Regions from separate parts of the Homo sapiens genome. Here region 2 is linked to region 1. Evidence: fine-mapped expression QTL. A gene starts in region 1. The other region holds a variant in brackets. All regions are shown on one strand. Distances are from middle to middle.

The links. PIP is the estimated chance that this variant, and not a neighbour inherited with it, causes the effect.
Region 2: its variant is fine-mapped to the expression of THADA in blood mononuclear cells (TOPMed, PIP 0.91).

The regions. Positions count from the first base shown.
Region 1 is chr2:43,590,634-43,607,246 of GRCh38, reverse strand. THADA (THADA armadillo repeat containing) reads left to right here and starts at 11,209. Exons shown (of 38, transcript NM_022065.5): 1 at 11,209-11,316; 2 at 14,831-14,930; 3 at 15,201-15,295; 4 at 16,293-16,423. The coding sequence starts at 14,855.
Region 2 is chr2:43,415,044-43,431,656 of GRCh38, reverse strand. It overlaps THADA (THADA armadillo repeat containing), which reads left to right. Exons shown (of 38, transcript NM_022065.5): 27 at 1,355-1,444; 28 at 3,426-3,557. Among named protein-coding and RNA genes, the nearest start is that of THADA, 170 kb to the left of the region's middle. RefSeq lists enhancers at 5,038-5,097, 5,118-5,207, 4,362-5,561, 5,600-5,679. The variant A/C (reference allele first, on the strand shown) is at 8,213.

The DNA of each region.
Region 1 (16,613 bases):
CATCGTGTTTCCAGAGAAACTCTTGGAAGAAGGAAGAAGTACAGCTGCCTCTCCCTTCTACATCAACACCTAGATTAAATTGGGGGAGTGGGGGTTCCTCACTTATAATACATATTACTTACATGTAGAGTTTGTTCAGCCACCTCTCGTTGTATCATTAAGGGATAAGAATTTGGGTACAGGGGATCCATGGGATTGTTTTTGGCTGTAAGTAAATAACAGTAATCCGCTCTGCTCCAGAAACCTTACGTGTGGATACAGGATAATATTAGTTAATATGGATATTAAAAACTTAACTCAATGCCGAGTGTGGTGGCTCACATCTATAATCCTTGCACTTTGGGAGGCCGAGGCCGGCAGATCGCCTGAGCTCAGGAGTTCAAGACCAGCCTGGGCAAAATGGTGAAACCCCATCTCTACACATTAAAAAAAAAAAATCTGGGTATGGTGGCACCTGCCTGTAGTACTAGCTACTCAGGAGGCTGAGGTGAGAGGATCACTTGAGCCCAGTGAGGTCGAGGTTGCAGTGAGTCGTGATCACAACCACTGCTCTCCAGCCTGAGTGACAGAGTGAGACCCTGTCTCAACAACAACAACAAACCCCAACACAATATTTACCTTTTTCAAAAGATTGGAACTATGTTTTATACAGTGTCTTCTCCCTTTGCAGAACCCTGGTAGAGTGGAATCCTACTGTCAAAAATGGACATCAAACTTTTCCATCTCTTCCTGTCCCAGGGATTCCTTCTTCAGATGTCCCCCAAAAACCATAGTAGTGAGCTACTAGTCCCGTCTCCTATGGATAGGGCTAAGAATTGGGATTGCCATATGGACAGATGTTTTTGAATGGGGGAATAATGAGGGGATACAAGAATGCTTTGTGCAACAAGAATGAGAAAAAAACTTTCTTTTCAAAAGCATTTTAATCAAAGATGGTGCTATGCATTTTAAATTTTTATATACTTAGAGGAAAAACTTTAGACAAATTAACTTTAACAGAGTTTGAGTAATGAACGGTTCTCAAATTGGGCAGCCCCCAGAATCGTAATAGGTTCAGGGTGACCCCTGGGCTTTGGCATGGTTGGATAACATTTATGGACAGAAAAAGGAAAGTGACCTGTAGAAGTGATGCACAGAAACAACTGGATTGGTTACAGCTGGGCATTTGCTTTATTTGAACCTGGTTTGAACAGCTGGCTGCTTGTGACTGGCTGAGCCTCTGCTACTTAAGAGATCAGGTTACAGTCTGTTTAACATCAAGTTAGGTTACAACCAACTAAGTATGGAGAAAACAGTAGGCCAAACTTAAAATATGTACGGAGGCTAAACTCAATTTAAGAATACGGCTTTCTATCTGTGCCCAACGCAACCATGGGCTTTCTTTAAGATGACAGTATTATAATCCAAATGGTAAAAAATGGCAGCTTTGTGGTAATTTGGGCATGTTCCAATTAGCAACTCTACAACCTATAAAAACAGGCCTTAAAGGTTTATTAAGCCCATGTTAGAACACTAAAGAAAATTTAAGAAAAAAACTCACTCACAATCTTACTCGCCTGACAAACTGCTTCTCCAAACCCATTCTCTTCCAAACCCTGTTCATAGTACCCATTATTTTACAAAGTTGAAAACACAATGTGTATATAATTTTCTGTTCTAATATTTTTAGATCATATTATTTTACAACTATTTTTACTTATTATTACATTTTCTTTTAAAGTTTAAATATTTGTTTATTTGATATAAAAAGTACAAACAACAATGTGGATAAATTTAAAAACAGTATTGAGCAATGTTATGAACAAAGTAATTTTCCATTGGATAGTTGTATTTCATAATAAATTTAGTATATTATTTCAACTGAGCTGGCAAGTTATACTATAGTTTGTGAATACTCATCTCAGCTCTCCTCCTTATTTTAAACGGTGGAAATACTTCTGTAGTTTGCTGCCACACAGTGGTAAAGTAAGCACCATTGCACGCTGCCACTGCAGAGGACTTGCTGGCCTGGTTATCCTAACTCAACAATTTGCAGAGCTACTCATGCTGGCCACTGTGCTGGGCACTAGGAATCTAAAGATGGTGTCCAACATGGAAAAGTTTATAAATCAGTAGGAAGACTGACAAGCATAAGAATAATTACTATCAACTAACAAACTGATAATGCTGTCACTGAGACAGAAATCTAAGTATGATGGAGAATAGGAATTTCTTGTCAGGTTTCACTGAGGAGGTAAAATGTGAGATGAAGCCTAGCAGAGAGCACAGTCGATGAAAGGACAATGCTTTCAGGGAATATTGAGGTCACTCAAGTGGGAACTTGGTGTGTGTGGAAGGAAGAGGGTGGTGTCACACAGACAACAGTCACTACATATTCTTACGTGGGAAGGAATTGTGGTTTTGTTTTTTGTTTTTTGGGGTTTTCTTTTTTTTTTTTTTGAGATGGAATCTAGTTCTGTCGCCCAGGTTGGAGTGCAGTGGCACGATCTCAGCTCACTGCAACCTCTGCCTCCTAGGTTCAAGTGATTCCCCTGCTTCAGCCTCCCAAGTAGCTGGGGTTACAGGCTCCTGCCACCACGCCAGGCTAATTTTTGTATTTTTAGTAGAGATTGGGTTTCACCATGTTGGCCAGGCTGGTCTCTAACTCCTGACCTCAAGTAATCTGCCCGCCTCAGCCTCCCAAAGTGTTGGGATTACAAGTGTGAGCCATAGCGCCCAGCCCCTCAGGAAGGGATTGCTTAGGAAGAGAAAGTTTGAAGAATATCTAAAAGGTTTCTTAAAATCAACCTAGTTTTATGTTTATGTTCTATGCTGACTTACATGAAAATGTATGTCATTAAAGGTAAATAACTTTGTAAGAAGACATGAAAATTATTGTTTCCTTAAGATACTCTATGGAAATTATATTCAAATAAATCATAAATAAGTCTTTCCTTAGTTATGATCCCTTAGTGCATTTTAGGCAGCAAGGGAAATCTGCAAAGGTGTTATCATTACTATATGAAATGGTTTGGATCTGTGTCACCACCAAATCTTATGTTGAAATGTAATCCCCTGTGTTGGAGGTGGGGCCTGGTAGGAGGTGTTTGGATCATGGGGGCATATCCCTCATGAATGGCTTCGCCTATCCCTTCGGTGATAAGTGAGTCAGTTCTCGTAAGATCTGGTTTTGTAAAAGTGGCACCTACCTCCCACTCCACTCTCTCTTGCTCCTGCTTTTACCATGTGATGTGGCCGTTCCCTCTGTCTTCCGTCATGATTGTAAGCTTCCTGAGGTCTCCCTAGAAGCAGATGCTGGTGCAATGCTTTCTGGATGGCCTACAGAACTATGAGCCCATTAAACATTTTTTTTTTCCTAAATTGCCCAGCCTTTTTTTTTTTTTTTTTTTTTTCTAAATTGCCCATCCTCAGGTATTTCTTTTTTTCTTTCTTGGTTTTTTTTTTTTTGTTTTTTTGTTTTTTTAAGATGGAGTCTTGCTCTTGTCACCCAGTCTGGAGTCCAATGGCCCAATGTCGGCTCACTGCAACCTCTGCCTCCTGGTTCAAGTGATTCTCCTGCCTCAGCCTCCTGAGTAGCTGGGACTACAGGTGCGTGCCACCATGCCCAGCTAATTTTTGTATTTTTAGTAGAGACAGGGTTTCACCATGTTGTCCAGGCTGGTCTTGAACTCCTGACCTCAGGTGATCCACCTGCCTCAGCCTCCCAAAGTGCTGGGACTACTGGCATGAGCCACTGCACCCAGTCTCTGGTATTTCTTTATAGCAATGCAAGGATGGCCTAATACACTATGGTTGGCAGCCTCTAAATCGGCCCTCCAATGATACCGGCTTCCTGGTATGCACACCTTTGTGTAGAGCCTCCCTCACTGAATAGAGCTGACCTTTGTAACCAATAGGATACTGTCAAAATGATGCTGTGTTGCTTTGTGGCTCAGCCATTAAAGTCACTGAATCTTCCACCTTGTACTCTCTTGCTTATTTTTGGGAAGGCCAGCTGCCATGTTGTAAGATGGCCCAAGCAGCTGGGAAGAGGTCCATGTAGAGAGGAGCTGGAGGCTTGTGTCAGCAACCAGCACCAAGAAGTCAGTCAATCATCTTGGGAGCTGATTCTCCAGCCTCAGCCAAGCTGTCAGGTGACTGTAGCCCCAGCCAACATCTTCACTGAAACCTCATGAGAGACTCCTAGCCAGACACATTCAGCCAAATTGAATTTCTAACCCACAGAAACTAAGAGATAATACATGTTTATTGTTTTAAGACAGATAAATAGATATATAAGTAATAGTACAGTACTTTGCTTTCTTTCACTGACTTGGGGCCAAACATATTAAATAACACAATATTTATATTCATAGGTCTAGTATACAGTTTTGGGCTTCATTTTAGATATAAAACTATTCAGGCCGGGCGCGGTGGCTCACGCCTGTAATCCCAGCATTTTGGGAGGCTGAGGTGGGTGGATCACCTGAGGTCGGGAGTTCGAGACCAGCCTGAACAACATGGAGAAACCCCCCTCTCTACTAAAAATACAAAATTAGCCGGGCATGGTGGCGCATGCCAGTAATCCCAGCTACTTGGGAGGCTGAGGCAGGAGAATCGCTTGAACCCGGGAGGTGGAGGTTGCGGTGAGCCGAGATCGTGCCACTGCACTCCAGCCTGGGCAACAAGAGCGAAACTCCATCTAAAACAAACAAATAAACAAACAAAAACCTCAAACTATTTAATATGGGGGATTGCTGAATTATACATGGCACCATGCATTGTTCGCAGAGTACCATACGTGATAATTTTGGGAGATGTAAAAATGACTATGAAACTGGGAGACACTATCATGTTTTTCTGTACAGAAAAGATTACTTGCAAGAGAACCTTACTTTTGACTGGTCAGTCACACTGCTTCTGAAGTTTTGGCTGTTATTGACCTTCATGAACAGGTAGTAATTATGTAGGCAATTAAAGCCTTTCTTTTGTGGCCTTAAAAGGTCAAATTTTACTTATTCAAATGTCCATTCAAATGTAAAAGAATCTTAATAATTACATATAAAATCATGTCATTAAATAATAATAATTTTTTTGTAGAGACGGTCTCTCTCTGTTGCCCAGACTGGAGTGCAGTGGCTGTTCACAGTTGTGATCATAGCATGCTGCAGCCTCGAACTCCTGGGCTCAAACAATCCTCTTGCCTCAGCCTCCCAAGTAGCTGGGATTACAGTCAGAAGTCACTGCGCCCAACTCTAAATAATTATTTTTAAAATTCCCTTTTCTAATTGAGTGGAAAATATTATTTTTACAGGTACATATTTGCAATGCTAAACTACATTAAAGAAAATGTCGACACAAGGATTACTTTTTATGATTTTTATCTAGTCCACTGTTACTATGTCAAGTATTTTCTTTTTCAAGATGGAATCTCCCTTTGTCACCCAGGCTGGAGTGCAGTGGTGTGATCTGGCTCACTGCAACCTCCACCTGCCGGGGTTCAAGCGATTCTCCTGCCTCAGCATCCTGAATAGTTGGGATGACAGGCGCCCGCCACCATGCCCGGCTAATTTTTGTATTTTTAGTAGAGATGGGGTTTCACCATATTGGCCAGACTGGCCTCAATCTCCTGACCTCAAGTGACCCACCTGCCTTGGCCTCCCAAAATGTTGGGATTACAGGCATGAGCCACCGCACCAGGCCTTGTCAAGTGTTTTCATTTACACTTTTATATACTAAGGATCCTTTAAAAATTTCCTTGGAACACATGTTCACAAATAAAATACATAGTTACTTTATAAAAGTTTGTAGTTCAAATTCATGCTATTGTGTCCTGAAAAACCTCAAGCAGTGTATTTAAAGTGGTCTCAAGTTGGTAGTGCCACCAGATGCCTAGCAAAAAAGAGGATATCTTCTTCAAAGATGTCACTATTTCAACCTTTAAAACAAAACCTTTGTTGCCTGGAAATAATTGGGGTTTGTACGTTTGGAAAGTAACAGATGATTCTCTACGAGAACGTAGGGGTTTTTTGTTGTTGTTGTTGTTGTTGTTGTTTTTGAGAATTTTATTTATTGATTTATTGATTCACTTTATTTTTTATTTTTTTCCCATAAGTTATTGGGGCACAGGTGGTATTTGCTTGCATGAGTAAGTTCTTTAGTGTTAGTTTGTAAGATTTTGGTGCACCCATCACCCAAGCAGTATACACTACACCATATTTGTCGTCTTTTATCCCTCGCTCCCCTCCCACTCTTCCCAAGTCTCCAAAGTCCATTGTATCATTCTTATGCCTTTGTGTCCTCATAGCTTAGCTCCTAATGATCAGTGAGAACATATGATGTTTGATTTTCAATTTCTGAGTTACTTCACTTAGAATAATAGTCTCCAATCTCATCCAGGTCACTGCAAATGCTGTTAATTCATTCCTTTTTATGGCCAAGCAGTATTCCATTGTATACATATACCACAGTTTCTTTACCCACTCGTTGATTGATGGGCATTTGGGTTGGTTCCAAGATTTTGCAACTGTGAATTGTGCTGCTATAAACATGCATGTGCAAGTATATTTTTTGTATAATAACATTTCCTCTGGGTAGATACCCAGTAGGGGGATTGCTGGATCAAATGGTAGTTCTACTTTCAGTTCTTTAAGGAATCTCTACACTGTTTTCCATAGTGGCTGTACTAGTTTACATTCCCACTAGCAGTGTAGAAGTGTTCCCTGATCACCACATTCATGCCAACATCTACTGTTTTTTGATTTTTTTGATTATGGCCATTCTTGCAGGAGTAAGGTGGTATTGCATCGTGATTTTGATTTGCATTTTCCTGATCATTAGTGATGTTGAGCATTTTTCATATGTTTGTTGGCCATTTGTGTATCTTCTTCTTCTTCTTCTTCTTCTTTTTTTAGATGGAGTTTCGCTCTTGTTGCCCAGGCTGGAGTGTAATGGTGAGATCTCGGCTCACCGCAACCTCCACCTCCCGGGTTCAAGTGATTCTCCTGCTTCAGCCTCCCAAGTAGCTGGGATTACAGGCATGCACCACCATGCCTGGCTAATTTTGTATTTTTTAGTAGAGACAGGGTTTCTCCATATTGGTCAGGCTGGTCTCAAACTCCTGACCTCAGGTGATCTGCCCGCCTTGGCCTCCCAAAGTGCTGAGATTACAGGTGTGAGCCACTGTGCCTGGCCCTTCTTTTGAGAATTGCCCATTCATATCCTTAGCCCTTTTTGATGGAATTGTTTGTTTTTTTCTTACTGATTTGTTTGAGTTCATTGTAGATTCCGGATATTAGTCCTTTGTCAGATTTATAGATTGTGAAGATTTTCTCCCACTCTGTGGGTTACCTGTTTACTCTGCTGACTGTTCTTTGCCGTGCAAAAGCTCTTTACTTTAACTAAGTCCCAACTATTTATCTCTGTTTTTATTGTATTTGCTTTTGAGTTCTTGGTCATGAAATCCTTGCCTAAGCCAACGTCAGGGTTTTTCCAATGTTATCTTCTAGAGTTTTTAGAGTGTCAGGTCTTAGATTTAAATCCTTAACCCATCTTGAGTTGATTTTTGTATAAGGTGAGAGATGAGGATTCAGTTTCATTCTCCTATGTGTGACTAGCCAATTATCTCAGCATCTTTTGTTGAAAAGGGTGTCCTTTCCCAACTTTAGGTTTTTGTTTGCTTTGTCGAAGCTCAGTTGGCCATAAGTATTTGGGTTTATTTCTGGGTTCTCTATTCTGTTCCATTGGTCTATGTGCCTATTTTTATACCAGTACTATGCTGTTTCGGTGACTATGGCCTTATAGCATAGTTTGAAATCAGGTAGTGTGATGCCTCCAGATTTGTTATTTCTGCTTAGTCTTGCTTTGGCTATGCGGGCTCTTTTTTTGTTCCATATGAATTTTAGCATTGTTTTTTCTAATTCTGTGAGGAATAATGGTGGTATTTCGATGGGGATTGCATTGGATTTGTAGATTGCTTTTGGCAGTATACTTCCTCTAGGTGTTACCATTCCATTTATCTGCCCCTTGCGTACTAGAAGGACTAGAAGGAGTTGCCTCTGCTTGATCTTGCCAATTCCTCTCTTCCCAGTCTCTTTTAAACCCATTCAAATCTGCTCCAAGTAAACTTTGGCAACTTCATCCTTCTAGGTGCTCAGGCCAGAAACTTTGGACTCATCTTTGACTCTTCATTTCTTCATACCCATATTCTATCCTTCAGAAAAAAATCCTGTTAGCTCTGCTTTCAAATTATATCCAAAACCTGTCCACTTCCCGCTCTCCACTGCTACCACCCTGGTCAGTGCCACCAGCATCCTGCCTGCCTAGTTTACCACAACAGCCTCACTGGGCTTCCTGCAGGCTCTACAGTCTTTTATTTTTTTTTCTGTTTTGTGACGGAGTCTCACTCTGCAGCTCAAGCTGGAGTGCAGTGGCGCAATGCTAGCTCACTGCAACCTCTGCCTCTGGGGCTCAAGCAATTCTCGTGCCTCAGCCTCCCGAGTAGCTGCGACTACAGGCACACAACATCATGCCCAGCTAATTTTTTTTTTGCATTTTTGTAGAGACGAGGTTTCACCATGTTCCCCAGGGTGGTCTTGAACTTCTGAGCTCAGGTGATCCACCCGCCTCAGCCTCCCAAAGCGTTGGGATTACAGGCGTGAGCCACCGCGTCCGACCTACAGTCTCTTCTTAACAAAGTAGCTCCAGTGATTATTTTGAAATGTACATTAGATGTTATTATTCTTTTGCTCAAAATCACTCCTCATTTCATGAAAGAGTCCATGAAATAATGTGAAAGCCTTATATAATCCAAAGCCCCTTGTCCCACTCCTTAGTATTTACCTTGCTTGGCTCCGGCCACTCTTGCCTCCTTGCTATTCTCCCAGCAGGCAAGCCCTGCCCTGGAAACTTTGTACTGGCTGTTCCCTCTGTATGGAAGGTTTCCCCTTCACCAAGTGTCTATGTCTCTTGGAAATCTTTACTCAGTGAGGCCTACCCTGATTACCCTATTTAAAGTTGCAATGTACCTCCCCTATACTCTCACTTTCCATTCCCCTATTTTTTCCATGGCGGTGTTAAATTGAACTAAATACCGCCTGAGAAAGCCTCTGCACTTCCATATTTGAGTCCTTGTGGATGAACCATAACCTAACTTAGTAGGTAGACAAGACTGAAAGCCTAATTTAGGAGTGTGCTTCTGTAACAATAGCTGAGTTTCAGCCAATCCCAGCAGCCATACTTCAACTATTCATACAATGCTTACTGTTCAAACTGTGTTCAGGTAAGGCAAATGCCAAGCTGTAACCCATCCAGCTGCTTCCGTACCTCACTTGCTTTTTGTACATCACTTTCCTTTCTTTGTCTGTAAATGTGCTCTGACCACGAGGCATCCCTGGAGTCTCTCTGAATCTGCTATGATTCTGGAGACTGCCCGATTTGAGAATCATTTTTCCCCTTGCTCAATTAAACCCTGTTAAGTTTAATTTGTCTGAAGTTTTAACAGTAGCTTCACCTTTCAACATATGTTTATTATGTTTGCTCCCTAGCCCACCTCTCGCTGTGCAGGGTGAAGAGTTGCAGTGTCTGCCAACAAAAAAGGGGTTCGGACCCACTGAGTTATATAATTAGTAGGTCTGAAACAATATACATATTTTAAAAAACATAAAACTTAAAAATGGTTAAAATGGTAAATTTTGCTGTGTATTTTACCATAATTTAGAAAAAAAGGAAATAAAATCTCACAGCTCCTGTAAAGTAGCATTTCAAGAAATTTTTACTTCAGTTATGTGTGAGTACTTCTACGTCCACAGTTTCAAAGTCTGCAATGTATTTCTTACTATGTCAGGGTCAAAAATACCAGAAAAAATTATGGTGGAGAACCGTCTGCACACACTCACCAGCTGACATGCACAACATAGTTCACAGCAGCAATGTTTAGAACAAAAACTGGAAATAATGCACATGTTAAGAGGCAGCAGGATGGATACATAATGAAGTATATTAAACAATGGAAAATTACGGTCCGGGCGCCATGGCTCACGCCTGTAATCCCAGCACTTTTGGAGACCGAGGCGGGCGAATCACGAGGTCAGGAGTTCAAGACCAGCATGAGCAACATGGTGAAACCCCGTCTCCACTAAAAAATACAAAAATTAGCTGAGCGTGGTGGCGCGCGCCTGTAATCCCGGTTACTTAGGAGGCTGAGGCAGGAGAATCACTTGAACCCGGGAGGCAGAGTTTGCAGTGAGCCGAGATCGCGCCACTGCACTCCAGCCTGGGCGAAGAGCACTACAGCCACCTGTAGGTGAATATGAAAAGCAATGCTGAAAGAAGCAAATTGCTGGAGAATACATACGCAATTCCAAAAGCTTCAAAATTGAACGAAACAAGATAGTGATACATACATTATGTGGTAAAGCTATAAAGAAAACCAAGGCAAGCTGATATAAAAAATTCAGAAAATAATTATTAAAAACTTAAGTCATTAACGTTTAGAGAACTGAAATGTCTCTATTTTCCAAATTAATACTCCTGATAATAGCATCAGGTCTTTCCTGATCTTGCCCACTGTCGCAGCTCCCAGTGACACCCCGTTATTGTATTTATTTTTCAAGGACTGAACCATCTGACAATTTGTATGTGCTGCGTAATACATGTATCCTCAGTAGGGGATAGCTTTCAAGGCTAGCGCTTGGCGACGCTCTGACAGTAGAGTTCATTATCTATTGAATGAATATATGCGCTTTGGCACACGTTGGTTCAGCACTACTCATTTTAGTCCGAATCCTTCTCGTGGCTTCCGTTCAGTCGCCGCCCAAACCCCTGCCCCATCTCGCAGGCTCTAAACTCCCTGGACTCGTTCCCGAGTCCCAGACGTAGTTTTCTCCTAGACTCTGCACTGGGCCAACAGAGTGGGAGAAAGGTGGAAGGTCTGGATTGGGAGAAAAGCGCTTCCCAGGCGTCCAAGCATGTGAAGAGAATGAGGTCTTTTCATTCAACAAGAGACCGTTGAATGAAGGCCCCTCAGCAACAAGGCCCGTCAGCCCTAACGCCATGAGGAACGCGCGGCGCTGACGGTACAGTGGCTGGTTAACTAAACCGGATTGCTACCGGCCACCCCGGTGACGTCACGACCTCCTCGAACTCCTGATTGGAGGAGCTGCGTTTGGTCAATTCTCGCGATGACTCCTCCAGGTTACCCCTCTCTCCCTCCCTTTGCCCTGACCCGGTAGTCGACCGTGGACCGCGCTGCGAGCCTCGGAGACGCCGTAGAAGGAGACCTGCTTCCGGGACTGGACCAGGCGCCTGCGACTCTTCTCAGACGCCGACGTGCACGAGGTTTGGCTCCCAGGTGTCCTGCCTGCCAGACCCGCGGTAGCTCGGCTCGGCCAGTTTTGCTAGGGCTGCCTGGCGAGCCACACCAATTCCCATCCTTTGGTATCGCCAGGATTCGGCGGCTGTGAAACTGATTTCCGGTCGCTAAGGTCTCCATGGAGACAGCACTTTAACCACTTTCTCCCACTGTCATTCCTCGACTCCACGTGGTTCAGAAATCGCCCAGAGAATGTTTGTGGGAGTCAGCCAGGAAGGTGTAGAGTGAAGCAGCGTTCTAAAGGGAAGCAGTAAGTGGGACCTAGGAGGAGTGTAATTTACTGGGCACCTTCTGGCCTTGCGGTAGACACGGGATTTACCCCCTTGGGGACCCTGGTTCTTCAGGACACACGTTTAGGCATCATTTGAGCAGGCATAATTACCGAGTCTGCTTTTGTGTAGCCCTCAGAATTGCAAGAGCAAATCCTCCTGCAAACTTGCTTACCTTTCACCAGAGAATAGTCTCCCTAGTTAGGTTTCCCAGTCTCTTCTGGCTTTGTACGATGGTCACTTTCTTAGGAAGCGTGCCTCTATTCCTCTAGATCTGACTATCCCTTTACAAATTATTCTGTTGTCGACACTTTCCTAGCTGCGTCCATTTTTGGTTAAGTGGTTGCTCACCTGCCATTACTGTATGGATTTCTTACTTCCCAAACAGACCATAGGTTCTTAAGATGTAGAATGTCACTTAGATGTAGAATGCATTTTAGGTACCAGATAGTCCACCTTCCTGCCCTTAAAGACATATATCCCTTCTAGAACATCTCTGACAAATGTTTGTTAATTAATTTGTTTATTCGTGAAGTGTTTGTTAAACACCTACTATGTGCCAGGCACTGGTTTGGAAATTGAGACTTGAAACATGAACAAAATAGATTAAAGTTGCTGCCTTCATTCAGTTTGCTACTAGGTGAGACAGACAATATACAAATTTACAAGTTAGGGTAATTTCTGGTACTAGTAAGTGCTATGAAGAAAATTAACGGAAATGGTGTCTACGTGTGTTGTATTGGTGAGATTTTAGATAGAGTGGTCATGGAAGGCTTTTAGAAGGTAATGTTGCAGCAGAAACATGAATGGTGAGAAGGAGTCAGTCTTGCAAAGATGTGGAATGAACATTAAGGGGCAGAGATACTGAGAAGTGTAAAGCCTCTTAGGTGGGAATAAGAGCATCAGGAAGTACAAAGCTCTTGAGATGGTGAAGAGGAGATTGGTTTGAGATGAAGAGTGGAGGAAGGCAGGGTCAGATTATTTAGGGCCTTGAAGGGCAAAATCTCAAGTATTTATTTATTTATTTATTTATTTATTTATTTGAGATGGAGTTTCGCTCTTGTCTCCCAGGCTGGAGTGCAGTGGCACGATCTCGGCTCACTGCAACCTCTGCCTCCTGGGTTCAAGCCATTCTCCTGCCTCAGCCTCCGGAGTAGCTGGGGTTATAGGCGCCTGCCACCACACCCGGCTAATTTTTGTATTTTTAGTTAGTGCAGACGGGGTTTCACCATGTTGGCCAGGCTGGTCTTGAACTCCTGACTTCAGGAGATCCACCCGCCTCGGCCTCCCAAAGTGCTGGGATTACAGGCACGAGCCCCCACTCCTGGCCTCAAGTTTGAATTTTATTCTAAGTGTATTTAGAAACCCTTGGAAAGTTTTAAGGAAGAGAGTAAGTAATTCAATTTGATGAGAGTTTTTTTTAAAGAGATTGCTTTGATGATTGTAAACAGAATGGGCTCTTTGGAGGTAAGTGTAGAAGTCAGGAGACCAGTTAGGGAGCTGTTTCAGGAGTCCAAGAGAAAATATTCAGTCATCTTCTCTTTGAATATTCCTGGTGTTGGAAAATTTCTTTGTTTAAAAGGTAGCCCAGTCCTTAGTGGGACCATAGAGCTTTTCCTTTGTATTGATCTGGAATCTGTTTCCCTGTAGCTTGTACTGACTTTTACTAATCTAATAGCAAGACAAGAAGTCTAAGGCTGGGCGCGGTGGCTCACGCCTGTAATCCCAGCACTTTGGGGGGCCGAGGTGGGTGGATCACGAGGTCAGGAGATCGAGACCATCCTGGCTAACATGATGAAACCCCGTCTCTACTAAAAATAGAAAAAATTAGCCGGGCGTGGTGGCGGGCGCCTGTAGTCCCAGCTACTCGGGAGGCTGAGGCAGGAGAATGGCCTGAACCCAGGAGGCTGAGCTTGCAGTGAGCGCAGATCGCGCCACTGCACTCCAGCATGGGCGAAGGAGCAAGACTCCGTCTCAAAAAAAAAAAAAAAAAAAAAGTCTGTAGTAGACAAATAAATCTATTCCCTTTTTCTCCAAAACAGTCTAGCAGCTGTTTTAAGGCTCTTGTTCTGTTGACTTTTTCTCCAGGCCAAACACCTTTGGTTAACTGAGCTGTTCTCTGAAGGAGGTGCTCTCTAGGTCCTTCAGAAATAGTTCCATTGTTTGTTATGGCTCCTTAGAGTATGGCCGCCAGCGCTGTACCTAATGCTCTACATGTCACCTGGCCTGTTTGAATAAAATCATGCACTCTGATATGGCTGACTTCTGTGGTTTTTGGCAGTCATCTTGGGCTGTTGAGCTGTTTCAAACCACGTTTTGCCTCTCCAGCCTCTCTTTCTGTGTTTTTTTCCCCTAAACTAAATGCAGCCCTTTGTATTTATTTCTGTTTCATCTTGGTAAATTTCATATTGCTCGTTATTCCAGTTTATTGACCTGTTTTTATTCCTGATTCCATCATTCAACATGTCCTTCCAGATTTATTTTATACATGTACTACATTATAGTCTCTAATATTTGCATCATAAATACTGCTAAAGATGCTAACTGCATCAAGAGAAGAGCCCTATGACATTTCCCTAGCAACTTCTTTCCAGATGGCATGGTACTATTAGTGTGTAGTTGTGTAGTCTCTGAGTTGGGTTGTTTAGCCTGTTATGAACCCGTTGATTTGTTAAGTATCGATAAAAGCAAACTCAAGAGAATAGCATTAAAAAAATATTTTTTTTCATTTTTGCAGAAATCAGGACACGGTAGTACCTCCTCTTAGTCTAATGAGTCACTGAGGTTAGTTTGAAGTATTTTATCTTTGGAAAAACTATCCCAGTTTTTTTGTGTGTATGTTCACTAAAAGGAAAGTTTGCTGTATTTTAAAATACAAAGACTGAGTCATAGTAGGTAAAATAACTTCAGTCAGTAATAAGCTTCAGCTTAAAACATTTTTCTTCTTCAAATCAGAAATTCTTAGACAGTGATTCTCATTCTGGAGCAGTTTTGCTCCCCAGGGGACACTTCACAGTGTTTGGAGACATATTTTGGTTGTCAGAACTTGGGAGGGAGGAGGGTGCCACTGGCATCTAGTGGGTAGAGATGGGGATGCATGAAACATAATGCATAGGATGATACTGTTCAACAAAGAATGAACCCAGCCAAAAATCATAGTGCTGAGGTTGAGAAACCTTACATTAATGCCTTAAAGTCTTCTTTCTTGCAGTGACTACTATTAATTCTATTTAAAATGGGTGTAAAGAAGAAGAAAGAAATGCAAGTTGCTGCGCTGACCATTTGCCATCAGGACCTTGAAACTTTGAAATGTAGGTGACTTCTGGTTTCCCTTATTATATTTTTTTCTAGTTTGCAAGCAGAGTATTTTAATGACTGGGACCCCTAGCATATAATATTCAAATTCTTTATATTTTTCCTTATGTTTTGGATGTAAAACAATTTTCTTAAAATTCTGTCTTCAGACTATGTTCCACCTATTGCTATGGTTTATAATTAAAAAATTTTGTAGAATGCACAACAAAGGCAAAGTTAACTCACTGTTAAATCATTGAAAATTTTTTTTTGTATATGTTATATAGCTTTTGCTGATGTGGAAGGGAAAAATCTAGCTTCTTTGCTGTTACATTGTGTGCAACTCACGGATGGAGTGTCACAAATCCATTATATTAAACAGGTAAGTCTGAATTGATATTCATGGATGCATCTTTAAGAGTATCATGCTATTAAGGATTTAAAAAAAATCACTGACAGTTTTTGGTCCCTAATTATTGCATATCAGTTTATCATTAGCAAATAAGTATTTTTTTTTTTCTGTTTATTGTATAATATCCTTGTATTCAAAGCAGCAATAGAAGCCATATTCAGACTTCTATCATAATTGAACTGTAAACAGATAAGGTAGAAGATAATGTGCATACCTCTTTTGTGGAGATAAATTTTAAAATATATGAATCTTCAAAACTTTTTAGCAGACACATTTAAAAGTTAATTTAAAATATAAAGATTATACTTATTAGTATTTCAGTATTAGGATTTACCATTTGAGCACACATAGTTTTTTTTTTTGGAAAGCAAGTAAATGTATTACTGGTTTTTTAATAGTGCTACAGCTGTTCTTTACTGTAAGCCATTAACAGGTCTGTGATTCTCTGTGGAGGTGGGTCTGGAGGGTAAAGAGGGAGGTGGGGACATGAGTTTAAAAAGTTAATAAATAGTGAAATAGGTGTTTAAATCAGTATCCTTGACAGTGGAGTATGGAAAACATTTCACGTAATTGACACTTTGTTTTATTTATTTTTTTGAGATAGGGTCTCACTCTCTTACCCAGGCTGGAGTGCACTGGTGTGATCTTGGCTCAACCACAGCCTCAACCTCCTGGGCTCAAGCAATCCTCCTGCCTCAGCCCCCTGAGTAGCTGGGACTACAGGCATGTGCCACCATGCCTGGCTAATTTTTGTATTTTTTTGTAGAGACAGGGTTTCACCATGTTGCCCGAGCTTGTCTCGAACTCTCCTGGGCTCAAGCGATCTGCCCACCTCAGCCTCCCAAAGTGTTGGGATTACAGGGGTGAGCCACTGTACCCAGCAATTGAGACTTCAAAGAGTATCTGTAACCATGTTACTTTGCTATATTTGATATTATAAAAATTACTTCAATGTTTTGTATTATAGATTGTGCCTCTGCTGGAGAAAGCAGATAAAAATGGCATGTGTGATCCCACTATTCAAAGTTGTTTGGATATCTTAGCAGGCATTTATCTTTCTTTGAGTCTAAAGAATCCCTTGAAGAAAGTATTGGCAAGGTAAGAAAAAAAGGAAGGGAAGTTGGGTGTTATAAATGTTGAATTTGACCAAAAGTAACTGAAGTTCCTTCCTTGGTTTGATAAAACTGAACTGATACAGATCACAAAAAGTTCATTCATATGGTTTGTTCTCTGTTTCATTGATTAGTTACAACTATTTTTTTTTTTTTTTTTTTTTTGAGACGGAGTC
Region 2 (16,613 bases), 180 kb after region 1:
AAAAAAAAAAAAAAGTACAAAAAATTATCCGGGCGTGGTGGCGGGCGCCTGTAGTCCCAGCTACTTGGGAGGCTGAGGCAGGAGAATGGCGTGAACCCAGGAGATGGAGGTTGCAGTGAGCCGAGATCGCACCACTGCACTCCAGCCTGGGCAACAGAGTGAGACTCCGTCTCAAAAAAACAAACAAACAAAAATGTATTATTACATTTATATGAAATTCTAGAATAGACAAAACCAAACTGTAATGATAGAAATCAAATCAGAGGTTCCTTTGTGGGGCGGGAGTTTGCTGGGAAGGGGCATGGGGGATCTTTATGGGATGATGGAAATTTTCTGAGTCTTGATAGGGGTGTGGATTACGAGTGTATGTATGTGTGGGTTGAATGGTACACTTGATCACAGCATTTTGCTGTGTGTAAAAACGTTTCAGTTTTTTTAAAATGTGATATTCTGGATTTCAATTAATAGGAACATAACATGTAGAGCTGATAAAAATGGGTAGGTTAGGGAATATTTATGTCACCCCTTCGGAGTAATTCTTTAATAGTTATGGAGACAGTTTGTTCCTAAATGCCATATTTAGCTTGAGCTTTTTGGTCAGTGGTGCAGCCTGAGGAACTATTCTACTTTCGTAGTTCAAGAGAAGTTTTTATAAAGTTGAAAAAGATAATTCTTACAAGTTCAGCAAGGATTAGATTTCCAGAACTTCACATGCCAAGACTGTACTTCTCATAACCATACTCCAAACCAGTGGTTCTCAATCAGGGGCCATTTTGTCCCACAAGGTATATTTGGCAATGTCTAAAGACATTTTCATTGTCATGATTGTTGGGGAGGGGTGTTGTGCTGCTGGCATCTAGTGGGTAGAAGCCACGGAGGCTGCTAAACATCCCACAATGTGTAGGACAGTCCCCTGAAACAAAGAGTTATTTGGTCCAAACTGTCATTGGTGCCAGGGTTGGGAACGCTTGTTCTAGACCTGTCCTTATCACTGAAGCTGAGTCAGTCTCAGTCAATCTGGTGTTGACTCTACTTATAGTCCAAATCAGTTGTGGAAACTTGGCATTGGCACAGATTACATATTTCTTCCCTGATAAAATTTAATATCAAATATTTGTAAACATACATAATCTTAAATTTTGAGATAAAAGTTCATGGATTGAGAGCACTTCAGAAATCAGAATTACCATTTGTGTTGATTGTTAAATTCTTAAGATGCTGTAGATTCTGTTTTTAACTGTATTTAATTAAATATCCAAACAACCGTACTTATCTTCCTTTTTTTAAAAAAAAGGCTTTATTGTCAGATCAAAGGGAATAAATGATAATAAATTTTTTCCTCCTTCTTTCACAGAATGACAGGGAGAGAGTTTTTCTCTCGTTTCCCAGAACTCTATCCTTTTCTTCTCAAACAGTTGGAAACTGTAGCCAATACAGTAGACAGGTAAGAAGAGAATTGGGTGGGGCAAAATGACCTCAAGGATGTGAATTACCTTAGTAATTGAGATTTTCCCTCTAGGCAGCTGTTTTTAATAAAATTCTTCCCTTTTTTAAATTTGTTTAAATTTTTTCCTTGAGACAGGGTCTTTCCCTGTCACCCAAGCTGGAGTACAGTGGTGGCCACCACTCCTTGCCCATTTTTGTATTTTTTGTAGAGATGGGGTTTCGTCATGTTTCCCAGGCTGGTCTCAAACTCCTGAGCTCAAGCAATCTGCCCACCTGGGCCTCCCAAAGTGTGGGGATTACAGGCTTGAGCCACTGTGCACGGTCAGACTGCTTCCTTGCATAAAATTGGCTTTTTTATTAAAGTGCTTTTTTGTAATTATATCATATTGCTTGGTTCTCTGTAGTAAATTTGTACCTGAAAAGTTATGTAAAATCCTGTCTTTATATTTTAAAAATGCTATTTTATGTTAAATTTTATCAAACTTAATTCCATTTTCGGTGGTACAGAAACTAGGAATCACATGGTGATTTCTTCTGTTATGAATTATTTTCTTCCTATTTTTAAAAAAATCTGTGTTTACATATTGAGTTTGCTTTATGCATACCTGTCATTTTTTATTACTGGCTTGTTGCAACTTACCATTGTGAAACTATAGCGATTAGCTGACTAATATGATCACTTGTGTTCAGAAATGGTTCTTGTCTACCTGAGCAGAAATGGCCAGTGTTCTTGGAAACACAGAGCAAAGCCATTACGAGGGCTTTCCAGTCTTATAGTTCACCATTGTCTTAAAAATCACATTCTGGCTGGTGTGGTGGCTCACACCTGTAATCCCAGCACTTTGGGAGGCCAAGGCAGGTGGATCACCTGAGGTCAGGAGTTCAAGACCAGCTTGGCCAGCATGGCGAAACCCTGTCTCTATTAAAAATACAAATATTAGCCAGGCTGGTGGTGCGCACCTGTGATCCCAGCTACTTGGGAGGCTGAGGTAGGAGAATCACTTGAACCCAGGAGGCAGAGGTTGCAGTGAGCTGAGATCTTGCCACTGCACTCCAGCTTGGGTGACAGAAAAATACTCCGTCTCAAAAAAAGAAAAAAAAAACACACACACATTCTGAAGCTGGTAGTGGAATTTTTAGTATGGACATCATAAAGCATGTCTTTTGTATTTTTCCTATAATTTTGCACTTGGTATGAATGTACACTAATTGTTTATAATTAGAAAATAAAAGTAATGAATTTTACTTCTGGTTATGATGCATTTGCTCACATTAGTAGTTTATGCTAATGTGCTTTTCTGGCCTTTAGTGACTATTCATGCTTTCTTAAATACATTTGGATGTTGAAAGTTTCACATTTCATACTGTGGAACAGGCACGTCTCTACTGTAGGAACAGTTCTAATCAAAATAGCGTACTCTAATTATGTAAATGATAAGCTTTGAGAAGAGGATCCTGTACGAAAGCCCATTTCCCTGTTTTGCTAGTAGTTTTTTCTTATGATGCACATTTGGGAGATAAGAAGTGAACGTAGAAAAAAAAAAGAAAAAAGGAAAACTATCCCCTTGATTGTGGAGTCTCACTTCATATACATAATTTTGTTTTTGAAATGGAGTCTCACTGTGTCACCCAGGCTGGAGTGCAGTGGCGTGATCTTGGCTCACTGCAACCTCCGCCTCCTAGGTTCAAGTGATTCTCCCACCTCAGCCTCCCGAGTAGCTGGAATTACAGGCATGCGCCACCACATCGGCTAGTTTTTTGTATTAGTAGAGATGAGGTTTTACTGTATTGGCCAGGCTGGTCTTGAACTCCTGACCTCACGTGATCCATCCGCCTCGGCCTCCCAAAGTGCTGGGATTACAGGCATTAGTCACCGCACCCGGCCATATACATAATTATTTCATGAGAAAAATGTTTGAAGGAGGAGTGCTTCACTACCTAAATGTGAAATCTTTCATGTGTAATAATTGTTGTTTCAGTGATATGGGAGAACCAAATCGTCATCCAAGCATGTTTCTCTTACTTTTGGTGTTGGAGAGACTCTACGCTTCCCCGATGGATGGTACTTCTTCTGCTCTCAGCATGGGACCTTTTGTTCCCTTCATTATGAGGTAGTGTCATGCTGTGTAGAAATTGTCTAGGTTGGCGTGGGAGTTTTACGGGAATATTTTATCTTCTTCTTATTTCAGAAACTATTTTATATATATCATATATATTTTATATATATATATTATTTGTTTGTTTGTTTGTTTTTTGAGACGGAGTCTCGCTCTGTCGCCTGGGTTGGAGTGCAGTGGCGCGATCTCGGCTCACTGCAAGCTCCCCCTCCCAGGTTCACGCCATTCTTCTGCCTCAGCCTCCGGAGTAGCTGGGGCTACAGGCACCCGCCACCACGCCTGGATAATTTTTTGTATTTTTAGTAGAGATGGGGTTTCACTGTGTTAGCCAGAATGGTCTCGATCTCCTGACCTTGTGATCCGCCCACCTCATTCTCCCAAAGTGCTGGGATTACAGGCATGAGCCACCGCGCCCGGCCATATTATATATTTTTTTATATATGTAAACCTATTGTATATATTAAAAACTATTATATATATAACTATTATATATATTATATGTAAAACTTTTGTATATAACTATTGTGTGTGTGCGTGTATATATATATAACTTGTATACACACACACACACACACACACACACACACACAAACTTTGGGAGGGGTCTTGTGAAAGCAGAGGCCTGGGTTTTCCTGCCATTGCCCCCAGTGTTTCAGAGTAAGGTGCTTATATTGTGGGTACAGGATCTCATTAGAACCTGTGTAAGTAATGTTTTCTTTGAGCCCTGTCTGCTCCAAGGCAGGTGGATGGTGTTGATAGGAGATACTCCTTTTGAAAGACATAGCCCCATGTTTGCGTTATTCCTGTGTTGAGCCTGGCTAGCACGGAGCAGGCTTGGTTCTGGTATGTATCTTCTGTCCACGGGTTCGAGAGGATGTCAGGACATCTGCCTCTTCACTCTGGAAGAGTCTGCGAGCCGGTGCAATGGGTGGCATGTAAATGGTAATGCCATGTGGCATGAATTCCCACTCGTCTTCTCTTTTACGTTTGTAGTACCTGAAAAAAGCCATGAATATAGAGTATTCATGAAATAATATAACAGGGTTCTCTTCTTTTAGAGCCTATTACCACTTCTTGTGTTACATCTTTTCAGGCATTTGCCGTCTTCTGATTACTTTGTTCATTTTGGATCAAAGGCCTAAATATGTAGGCCTCCAAGAAGTATTAAAATTTTCTCATGAAACCTTTCAGAAGCCTATCATATTAGTTAGCTATTACCTTTCTGCTTAGCTCTTGACAAAACAGTACCTTCATTTTTGTGTTTCTACCAAAAATTGAAGTGGATTTGGAGCAGAAGGGTAAGAAACCAAACTCAAGAGAGTATTTCTTATGTATGTAGTGTCCTAGGTTTCACTTCCTTGTTTCACAGAGCTGACTTATGCATTTTAATGTGAGAAAACCATTAAACATGAGGTTCTGGCATGCGCTTGCAGAGCTATTTGTTTGCGCCAAGCCTTGGCTGTGGCTGTGTTATCTTTGATCACAGAGATGACTCAGGCAGACTGGTTTTTGTTTCCTGATATACAAAGTTACCAGTCTCCTTCATCTGGCATTTGGTGATTCATTTTAGGAATTTGGGTGGTAAATTTTACTTTCAGGGGCCTTAAAAATTGTTCTTTCATGAATAAGTGGAAAGAACTAAGAAATGTTTTCAGAAAGTTGATGCAAGGAGGAAAGGCATGTGCACAGAATTGCAGTTTACATTAGAAACAGAGATTTGCTTTAGAACCTGTGCTCTGTCTTAAGAACATTGAATTTGTGGAAGCTTTTTACTACTCAGTCTGTTGTTCATTGCATCCTAGAAATAATAAATTACTACATTGAAAGTACCTTTCAGTGGTACCTGAAAGTACCTTTCCAAAATGTTGCTTAGTTTACATATAATCAGAATGCTGATACTACTCATTATATTCAAAGTATCCATTATATAAAACAAAGATTGCATTAATATAGAAAATTTAAATATTGCTTTGAAGCCAGTGTACTTAGGGCATCATTTGTTAACCTCTAAAAATACAAAGTAAGAAGTTTGCAATCAGTCTGTTCTTCCAGTGAAAGAAAATGCTGCGGTTGTAGTTGCTTTCTTCCAGTAAGTAAGGTGCTTTATGAAGTAGATTCATAGAACATCACCAACAGCAGAAGTGCCACCAACCAAAATACAAGGTTATTTTGGTGTAACAGAAAGAGCACATCTATCACTCTTGACAAGCCCTGCACTCTTGGGTTCAAATTGTAGCTCTGTAACTGCCTTGCTTGCTCTCTGAACCTCAATTTCCTCAACTTGCAAATGAGGGTGATAACACATCTTCTGAGAGTCACTGTAAGCAAAATGTCCTGTAAGCAGAAGCACCACCCTTGATTCCTTAAGTACAGAGCCTAGGCTCTGACTTATTGACTGTCCATGTGTGTTATAGAACAGTGTTTCTAAAACTTTAAGATGTAAACATATCACTTGGCTATCATATAAATTCTGATTTCAGTAAATCTGAGGTGAGGCCTGAGAGTCCGACTTCCAAATGGTCTTCCAGATAATGCCACTGCTGCTGGTCTGTAGATCACATTTTGAGTAGCAAAATTAAACTTGGGATATTAAATTTAATACCATCACACACACACACACACACACACACACACACACACACACACATACAATTTTAACAAGCTAGACAGTAGTAGCTTATTAAAATTGGTTAGGCAGTTTAAGGAATTTATTAAGAAGTAGATTTTGACCCAGGAATGCAGAAAACAAGAAAGAAAGTGTTCTGAGCAGAGAAGTCAGTAGGAAGTAGACCAACCTTTGTTGAGCCCCGTCTTTCTGCCAAGTATTGAACTGGTCATTTTACTTACAGTGACTCTGAGAAGAGGTGTTATCACCCTCATTTGCCCGTTGAGGAAATTGAGGTTCAGAGAGCAAGGCAGTTACAGAGCTAGAATTTGAACCCAAGAGTGCAGGGCTTGTCAAGGGTGTTAGATGTACTCTTTCTGTTATACCAAAATAACCTTGTTTTTTGGTTGCCTTTTGAGTAGCCAGTAACTTAGCTACACGGAATGGACCTATAGGGTCTGAAATGTATGCAACTGAGAGAGATGAGGAGCCTATATCCACAGCTGCTGTATCTGAGTACAGGCTGTCTTCTGGATATAGACGTAATGTCTCTACCAATGGTGGGATCTGTTCCTTATTTTGCTTTTCCTGTAGGAAAAGTGACTGATTGGATTGGTTAACCATGTGTGGCACATGGTGACAATCGCCTGGGGTTATAGGACTGGTTTGTGGCCAGATACAGTAGAAGCCTGGCTCTTCTTTCTTGGCCACCTTCTGTGGTAAAGTGGAAGGCCCTAGATTTAGTTAGTTTGGGGTTTCATCAGCCTACCACAGGGAAAACCCATGCTACCCCAAAATGTTCACTGGCGAGGTGAACTATAAACAGATTTTTAAAAAGCAGTGAATGTGATAAAACTGTATGCATTTGATTTAGATGACCTCTGAGAATATTATTCATGAAGAAAGTGGAAGGCTGATCATAAAACCTGTCATTCCAGGCAGTGCTTGTGGTTCTGATTGTGGTAAAGAGTGGGCTGTTTTGACTTGGGGTAATAGCTAAAAAGATGGATGGGTGTATGCACAGTGGGTCAGCAGTGTTTTATTTTTGTACCGTTGTTAAGGGTAATTTATGTACTTGGAAGGGTTTTCATCAGGCTCATGGATACTATGAGTTTGGCCAAAGAAAAAAATTTCAGTTTGTGGGAGTAGTGCAAAGGTTGCTCTGACTGCTAAAAGTGAATTGCACAATGAGAAGAAGATTAAAAGCGCCAACAAGAGCTTTTTGTTTCCCTTTGATTTATGTGTACTTACCTGCTATTTCCTTCCTCTCTGTAAGGTATTTATAAGTATTATATGTAGTTTTACTCCTTTATCCCATGTTTAAGAGTATACCTAAACATATATGCCATTATGATTGTTGCATCCTCTTGGGACAGAACTTATAATGTCAATCCCAACATCTTGTATACAACTTTTAAAAAATCCAGTGTATTTTATGTTCTGATGTTGTGCTGCATCCAGATACAAAGCCCTTTACCATGTGAATGTGATGCTTTCAATTTAAGACCATTAATTCATTCTTCAGTTCAGGTACCACAAAGCAGAATAATTCATGCTTTAAAAAGAACCTTGACTGGCTCTCTGAATGCAGCTCACCAGGGCCTGCTTCTCTGGGCTTTCTAGAGACTAGAAAGTCTTTTCAGAGGCCAAAAAGTCCCTGGGCATACATCTCTGAGTTCCCTTTCACAAGCAAGTTTCAAGTTCCAGTCAAAGAGCTCTAGGTAACCACATATGCCTCAAACCTAGGACCATAGAATCCTGAACAAAGGCCCAGGAGAGCTTAGACGAATCAGGTCTCAGAGGCCGAGGCGGGCGGATCACCAAGTCAGGAGATCGAGACCATCCTGGCTAACACGGTGAAACCTCGTCTCTACCAAAAATACAAAAAATTAGCCGGGCATAGTGGCAGGCGCCTGTAGTCCCAGCTACTCGAGAGGCTAAGGCAGGAGAATGGTGTGAACCCAGGAGGCAGAGCTTGCAGTGAGCAGAGATTGTGCCACTGCACTCCAGCCTGAGTGACAGAGCAAGACTCCGTCTCAAAAAA[A/C]AAAAAAAAGAAAGAAAGAAAGTAAAGCTACTTATTTGGTAGGTATATGAAGTCAAAAGACTGATGCTGGTGACATAGCTTCAAATGCTGGAAAGTCCAAGTGAAAATTCTTTTGAGGAGATAGGGAAAGAATCTCTTGCAACTTTATAGCATGATGCTTTATGATTATGCTGTTAATGGCTAAAAGTAGCCATAAAAAAAATGAAGGCAAGCTAGATTGCATGCTTATCAAATTTGTGAGCAAATTAAGATTCAAAATAACCTTCAAGCATAGGACTGACAAACACAAATTCAGGCATAAGACCATTACCTCTGAATGGGGAGGAAAGGGGTGAAATTGAGGAGCCATGTACTAGAAGCTACAATTTTATTTGTGATGTGTTCTTAAATTGGGCATTGGGCAAATGCTTGAATGTCATCCTATTCTCTAGATTCTTTTCGTTGTTGTCATCATTTTGTATGTCTGATGCAGTTCATCATTTAAAAGTAAGATTCGAAATAGCCTGGACCAGCCTGGGCAACATAAGGAGAACCTGTCTCTACAAAAAATTTTAAAAATTAGCCAGACTTGGTGATTTGCGCCTGTAGTCCCAGCTACTTGGGAGGCTGCGGTGGGAGGATTGCTTGAGCCCAGGAGGTCAAGGCAGCTCAAGTGAGCTGTGATTGGGCCACTGCACTGCAGCCTAGGTGACAGAGCGAGACCCTGTCCCCCAAAAAAGCCTTGAAAGACTGGATTGATGGGATGAGACTATCAAGATAACATTTAATAGAGATATATATCATTCTGATTTTTTAAAGAAAAGTCAAAATTATATACATACAAAATGAGGGCTATCTGGCTTCATAGCAGTTTTTGTGGGGGAAAAAATATCTTGGTGAATGAGATATCCTGGTGAACCATGAGAAAGCAGCATGACACTGTTGCTGCTTCCAGATAGTGGAGGCTGTAGTCCCCCTGAACTCTGTTGGTTAGCCTAAACCCACATTATTCTCCTTATTATTCTGTTCTGGGCTCCCCATTTTAGGAAGGTCACTGAAGAACTAGTATCTGTCGAGGGGAGGTGACCAAGATGAGGAGGAAACCAAACATCTGGAAACAGTTAGACTGGAGAAGACTTAGTGGCAACATGATAATGGTCTTTATATACTTGAGAGACTGCCATATGGTAGAAGGCGCATAATTTCTCTTTTTTGCTCCCAATGGGAAAATGGAAGATAGATTTCAGCTTTTAATTTAAAGAAGAATTTTGTGAAAATTAGTATTCTCTATCAAGGAAAAGAACATATTTCCATAATACTGAGTTTGCCCATCAGCAAAAGTGTTAAGTTTTCAAGGAAAACTGATCACATGTTGAGCATATATCTGCAGCGCACCTGAGGTTGGACTGGATATCATCAAGGTATCTGTTTGGCATGCCTTATTTCAGAATAGGTGAACAACTCAGCTGTGGATTCTGAATGTTCAGTGAATGAAATGATCAACCTGCCTCTAATCCTGTGACAATATTTGTACATTTTTGTTTATGGGTCCTTCGATCTCTCAAAGAAAAGAAGTTGGGATGCCATTCTTGGCATGGCCCAAAAAGTCACAGTGGTTTGCTCTTAAATGGCACCCTCCAGGAATTAATCTACTAAAATTTAGCATTTAAGTAACTTCTGTAACTGTGTTCTGGATAGTTCTGAAAACATATTTTTGGCCTATGAGATGTTATGTCTGAAAAGCATTCTTTATTAATTTAATTACCTTTTTTTGTGGTTCCTGTATTTTTCTCCATTCCAGATGTTGGCTTAAGCCACATTTTCTGACAAGCAAAAGAACATCTGAGTCTTTGAGAAGTCAGAGATGCTTTTCTAAAGAGTGGTTATAGTAGATAACTCTTTATTGTCCCAATTTCCCAAAGTATCTTGAACAGAGTTGCCTGGAGAGAGAGTACAGGGGTCTCCAAGCCTTGCTCATTACAAGTAGAAACACCTGAGAAATAGGGCTTTGCCAGTACTGTTGACATAGAACTTCCTGCCCTGGCCAGCACTCTACCTGGTCTGTGGTTACTACTAAATTCCATGAGGTTCAGAGAAGGGAATTATAGGAAAGGAGTATGCCCCCACCCTTCCCCCGCTGCCCAGCCATCCTAATCTGCTAACAGTTGTTGGGTGAAAAAAGGGTTCTGCTATCCCATAATTCTGTGGAAACCCTGGCCCCTTGGTTTCACTATGTGACTGTCTGATACCAGGTCAGGCTTGGGACCAGATTGTTGAGGCACAGGTGTTCAGTGCTGCTCAGTTTTCTTCTTTGCTTATAGGCCAAACTTGCAAAACATGTAAATGCCCCCAGTGTTATCTTCCATGGGGTATTTGTATATTACAGATACATACATTTTGAAATAAAGCAGTAAAACTCTAATGGTGGTGTTTTAGGCCTTATATAGGGAGGATCTAGAAGCAGAGATTGGAAGGTTGTTTCCTATTGCTGGGGAAATCACATTGTTTGGGCAGCTACTTACTCTGCCTCCTTTTTACTGTGCCTAGCACTTTATTTGGAGGGCTGTACTCATGGCCCTCTGAATTTCTGAATTCTACCCAGGGTAGCTGAGGTTCAGCATGTAGTATGAAATTATGTTTTGCATTATGTGTCTTTTTTTGCAAATAGTTCTGGCATAAAAAGATACCTTGTTATCTGTCACCAATTTTTATCTGTTAGTTCCTAGATAGGGGCCTGGCCAACTTCATTTCTGGTGCCAGATCTCTTTAAGACCATTTTCTAAATATGTTTTTGAGCAGAAGGAATGAGGAGTTCACCTCTTATGGAATGCATTGACAAAGCAAACTAGAAAAACAGAACTTGTAGGGACCAGCTTTTCTTCAGTGTTATCTGTTATCCCAACAGGCCAGTTTAGGTCATGTTAGAACAAGTGATTTGATCTGCACACAGTCCCATTCTTAGGTGAAATTTCTGACAATGATGATAATCTATGGCCTATTGCTGCCATTCATACTAGAAGTTAGAATCTAATCAGTTAATTGAGTAACCAAGTATTTGTTAAACATTCATTGTGTACCTAGCTAGTGTTAGGTCTTGGGTAAGATGCAAAGTAAAGAAAAATGTCTTTATGCTTAAAGAACTTACCGTCTAGCTAATAAGGTAAAATACATGCTTGTGAACCTGATACCGTGTATATTAACCACTTAATTATATGACATATACACTAAGGACTGAGGCCTACAAAGAAGGGGAAGAGCATCAGTGGGTTGGAGAAGTCCGGGAGGCTTTCCCAAATAGCAAGGCAGGAAGAAATGTGGGAGTTCAGTCTGCCATCTCAGGGACTTTTAGAAATCACCCATGGTGATTAACAAGTCATGTGAGAGGAGTGAAAAGTCAGGGGGATCCAACAAGGGGAAGATTGTGATGGAGAGTTTTATGATTCATAACTTGGAAGGCATCATAAAGAGCTTTGCTTCCACTTGAACCAAGGGCGACCCAGGAAATTCACAAAATAAATGGTTTGCTATTTAACAGGAGAAACCATTGATGGTGCACCTTTGGTAACTTTAATAAAGAACAGTATTTGTCCTGAGTGTTGCATTTAAGTCTTGTGGAAGTAATGAATTGTAGTGGGAAAAAAAATTTAAATTTAGTAATACTTAACATTTTAAAGTATCTTAACAGTGTTTTTCCATACAGAACTTTTATTTCCTTGTTCTTAAATTGTTTCTCAAAAATTGTAGCAAAGGTGCTCTGCAGGCATTTTTAATGCTGAATTGAAGGATTTCACATTACCAAGCCCCAAATGCTGACTGATAGGCAGTCATCCTACACAGTAGAGAACATTTTAGATCAAAAATGTGTTTTTTTCTTCCAGAAGAAAATAAGAATTGGGAAATAGAATAAGAAGGTAAAGATAAATTATAGAAGGCTTCAAATGAGGACAAGGAAAAATAATGACATAGTGTGTTTCGGTTAGCTTTCTCTGACTGGAATGGGTTTTCCCTTTCCCTCTGGGCCTTGGCCCCCACCGTCTATTTCTAATCTTCTAGTAAAAACAAGCTACACATGTTACATCAGCTGCTCAGGATACCTTCACCCTCACGTCCTTTTACTTTTTCCTTCCTCACTCACTTTGAACATTGTGACTCTTGACTGCTCATCTTGCCTCCCTTCCAACCAGTTATAGACATTCTCTTCTTCACCATTTATTCTTCTCTGTCTCTTTATATTGTGATCACTCTTCATCACCAGTTCATCCTTCCATTAAGTGTATTTACTGAGGGCCTACTTTGTGCCCTTGCCCAACCCAACACCCCTACTCTCATCACCTCTCATTTGCAAGAGAAGATGTGGAGGCCATCAGGTGTGGGTTCTGTCCATGGAGAAACCCACTCCACCCACAGTCCTCTCCTTTGTTTTATAGCCAGGCTCTAGGAAAAGGTGGTCTGTGTTTAGTCTCCATTTTTCCCCTTCTTAACCCACTGCAGCCTGGCCGCTTCTTCCACTGCCTCACTAAACTGCACCAACAAATAGGAGTGACCTCCTTATTAAAAAAGCCACTGGGTGCTTTTCATTCCTTCTCATTTCTGCTTTTTCTCTGGTGTTTGATGCTATTGCAGACTCCTTTCTTCTTGAGTTCTTTCTTCTGTGGCTTCTCTGGCCGTTATTTCTATCTCTCCTTGGAGGGCCCCCTTCCTCCCGCTGCCTCTCAAACATTGGTATACCTGTTTGTCCTGCCCTCAAACCTTTTCTTTTTCACTTTGCATGCTCTCTCTGGGGTTATCACTCACCTACACTTACCTGGTCCTAGATCTAGAACTCATATAGAATCACAAGTTCAACTTTCTATTGGACAGCTTCTTCTGCATGTCTCACACACATCCAAAAGTTGAGAATTTCAATTACCTCTGCACACTGAAGTTTGAACAGCCTTCTTTTAGGGCCTAGTACAATGTCTGACATCTTGCTCTACCTGGCTAGCTGCAGTCAGGGAACTTCTTTAAGGGAAACATATCAGAATCAGGACTCAGGGTGGCACAGAGGTTCCTCCCGCTGTCAGTGACTGTGTTCATGCATACCCAGTAACAAAGGAGCATTGGTTTAAAAAATCACTGACTTCTGAAAGCGCTCCAGTAAGCTTGAAATGATTTGCTTTGCTTCTTACGTTGATTATCATCAGTTTGAGGTAGCAAGTAGCAGGTGCTTGTTCCTTTCTTTGGAGGTGAAAAGCCAAGGCCCAGAGAGAGTAGACATAATATGCCCACATTCAAAAAGTGACTCCCTAAGGAGTCAGGGCAAATTCATTTATTCATTCACTCAACAGATATTTATTGAAAACAATTATGTTTCAGGCACTAGAAACAGAGTGGTGAATCAGACAGATACAGTTTTTGGCATAATGAGGTATCCTTTTTGACGATGCTTCTTATCTCTTCTTTGCTCCTATTTTTTCCATCCTGATTAGTGATAAATGATAATAATTAGCAAATGTTTACTATAAGCCAGGCAATATTTTAGGACTTTACACATATTAACTCATTTAATCATGATGACAGCACTATCAAGTCATTGTCGTTACTATCCCATTCCACAGAGGGGGGGAATGTTGGGCAGTAGGAACTTTCTAAATGTGTCCTACCTAGCTCATACTGGTAGTGATAAGGCGTGAATTTGAACCCAAACAATCTGACTCTAGAACCCATGCTGTTAGCGACTGCTTTAGCTATTCTAGCTCTTAACACTGTAATACTTGCTTTTGCTCATCTGTTTATGATGCTGTGTCTGTGAAGTATGACAGGGTAGTTCTCAGCATGCCAAAATTAACCTGCAGCTTTACCTAACAAACATTTGGACTTACTTTGCTTTCTTGAGATATTTCCCCCCTTGGGCATTTCGTTGGCAGTAGTCTCATTTTCTAATCTGAAATCAGGAGAAAAGGAAGAAAAACTTGCAATAAAGCTTAAGTGGTTGTGACAGGTTGCTAAATAAAACTGGCTCAACTGAAGTTTTGAGATTCTTGAGAAACACTGAGAATTTCTTACAAAGGAAATTTTCCTTATTATAATAGGAAATCATGGGTCATTGCACAGTTATAAGTGTCTTAGTAAAGAGAGAATGTGGCTTGAGGCTAAGAAGCCTAAAATCTTAATGAGATTATTTGTGGGCTGCTATTTATGCATAATTTTTAAACTCTTAGAAAATATGTTTTCTATCTGTCTTTAGTATGTCATCTTAAGTTTCCACTGCTTTACGTAATTTTGAAAATCTTTAGGGTTGCTAGAAAAAAAAAACAATAATAGCAAATGTTTACATAAGAATTTAAGTTTAGAGTGTACTTTCACATATAGTAACTTGATTGTTTCTCTTTTTACTCTCTTATAAAGAAAACAGCCACTCCGTCTCAAAAAAAAAAAAAAAAAAAAAAGAAAACAGCCATGAGGATATCAATTCGTGTTGAAACTTTTTTAAATTGCCAATGTTTTCTTATGCAGTAATTGTAAACTGATTTGGAAAAAAAGGAAATCTAAATCTGTGAAGCGTTTACATTACTGAATAGTATGAAAGGAAGGTTTTGTTACTTAAGATTGCATATAATAACTTCAGGAAACTGCTTTAATGGATAAGTAACAATAGCATCTGGTTGTTAGTTGATCATCTGTACTCCAAGGCCTCTGAAGTGGGTTCACACCGCCCTTGGTTTGCCAATTTTATATCTTTTATGTACATAGTCCTACTGCCCTCTTTTCATAATTATCCAAAGGTTACCAGCCAAAACCTGTGTGGAGGGTACACGGAGGATGAGATGTGTCCCCTGGGGTTTTTGCATTAGGGAAAATTCCTGATCTGGGACATTTGTGCCCTGACCACCAGCCCCCAAGAGATGCCACATTTTTGTCTACTTTAGTTGAAAACTCTCAGTCCTACAGTAGGCTGTAGTAGGCCTCAGTCTGAATAATCACAAAACCAAGAAACATTAATGAGATTTTTCTGTTCAGTTTCTACAGTGTCCGGAGCATTAACAAAATATATATTTGTATGAAATCTACAGGCTACTGTGTAAATAAGCCTGCTCCCTTTTGGTTATTAAATCATACAGGAAAGAAGCATCTGTTTTAGCAGAAACTGTGGAAAAATATATCCAGGTAGCCCAGGAAAAGTTGAATTGTTACTGACAGATGTGTCACCACAGACAAGAAAAGAATTTACAAAGCAGTGGACAGACAATATTTTCAGACAATAATCTGTCTTTTTGGGTGATGTGTGGGTAGCATTGGTTTGTTTCTTGCCTGAATGTTTATTCATTTTTTTCCCAGGAGAATCCCTTTTGCTCAGCTTCTTTCTGGTTTGGATAAAATGAAAAGTAAAATTGACTTAATACTAATTATAACCTGCATAATTCTACTGAAGAGAAACTTAAGAAATAGAATTATTTTTTCTAGTTAAGCTTCAGGGTCATATAATTATTATAATTCAATCATTTATTATCCCCCCACCCTTTTTTCTGTGTGATTTAAGACATCAGAATTTAATTTGTAGCCAGAATGAAAACTGGACTTAAGAAAAGCTTGACTAGAGAGAGATTTGCATTCTGCTGCGTGGTTGAACATGTCTCTAAAGTAGCAGCTTTAGAATGCCATGTCCTGATAGAATTCCCCGTTGAAAGCTAGCCAGCAGAGCAGCTTCCTTGTGTCCTCCTCCTTGCCTGACCCACCGTGAAGCGTCACGAGGGCCCTAGATATGAACCTCGGGGGCTCCACAGCCTGACAGAAGAGAACTAGTGTCGCTGGGCAATCCATGATCTGGCACAGAAGCCCCAGGCTCTAGATTTTGTAATTGGCCACCCACCCTGGCCCAACCTTGGATAAATATTCCTGAGTTCTAAGTAGGATGAGGAATTTAAATCCCTGTTTTTTCCTGAGTTCTTCCATAACCAGTCCACGACATTGTTATGAGATCTGAGTGGAGTGCCCATGCTTGGAGAGGGAATAAAGGGAGCACGTTCTACTACTACTAATGAATACATACTCCCATTAACAGTCCCTTTTTCCCTAGGAATGATGCCACTGGAAGGGCCAGATGTGACTCCACTGTAGTCACTGACCCAGACCAGCTTTACCCCTAGGGTAATTGAAACCTATATTAAATGATTTGACAGGTCATAAGCAGTGCCCTCTACCCACTTAATTTTCTCAGATGCCTCCTCCATTATGAGCTAAACCTTGTAGATTTTCATTCTTTTAGTATATGGTTTTGATCCCTTCTAAAATGGACATCTCAATGAAACATAAATTACTTAAAAGTTATTAGTAGTCATTTATGCCATAGTATGAATTAGTTTACGTTTCTTTGGTTTTGACAGGAAGATAAATAGAATACGTTGGGGAGAAAATGTAGAACTCGAAACAAAGGGAGAAAGCA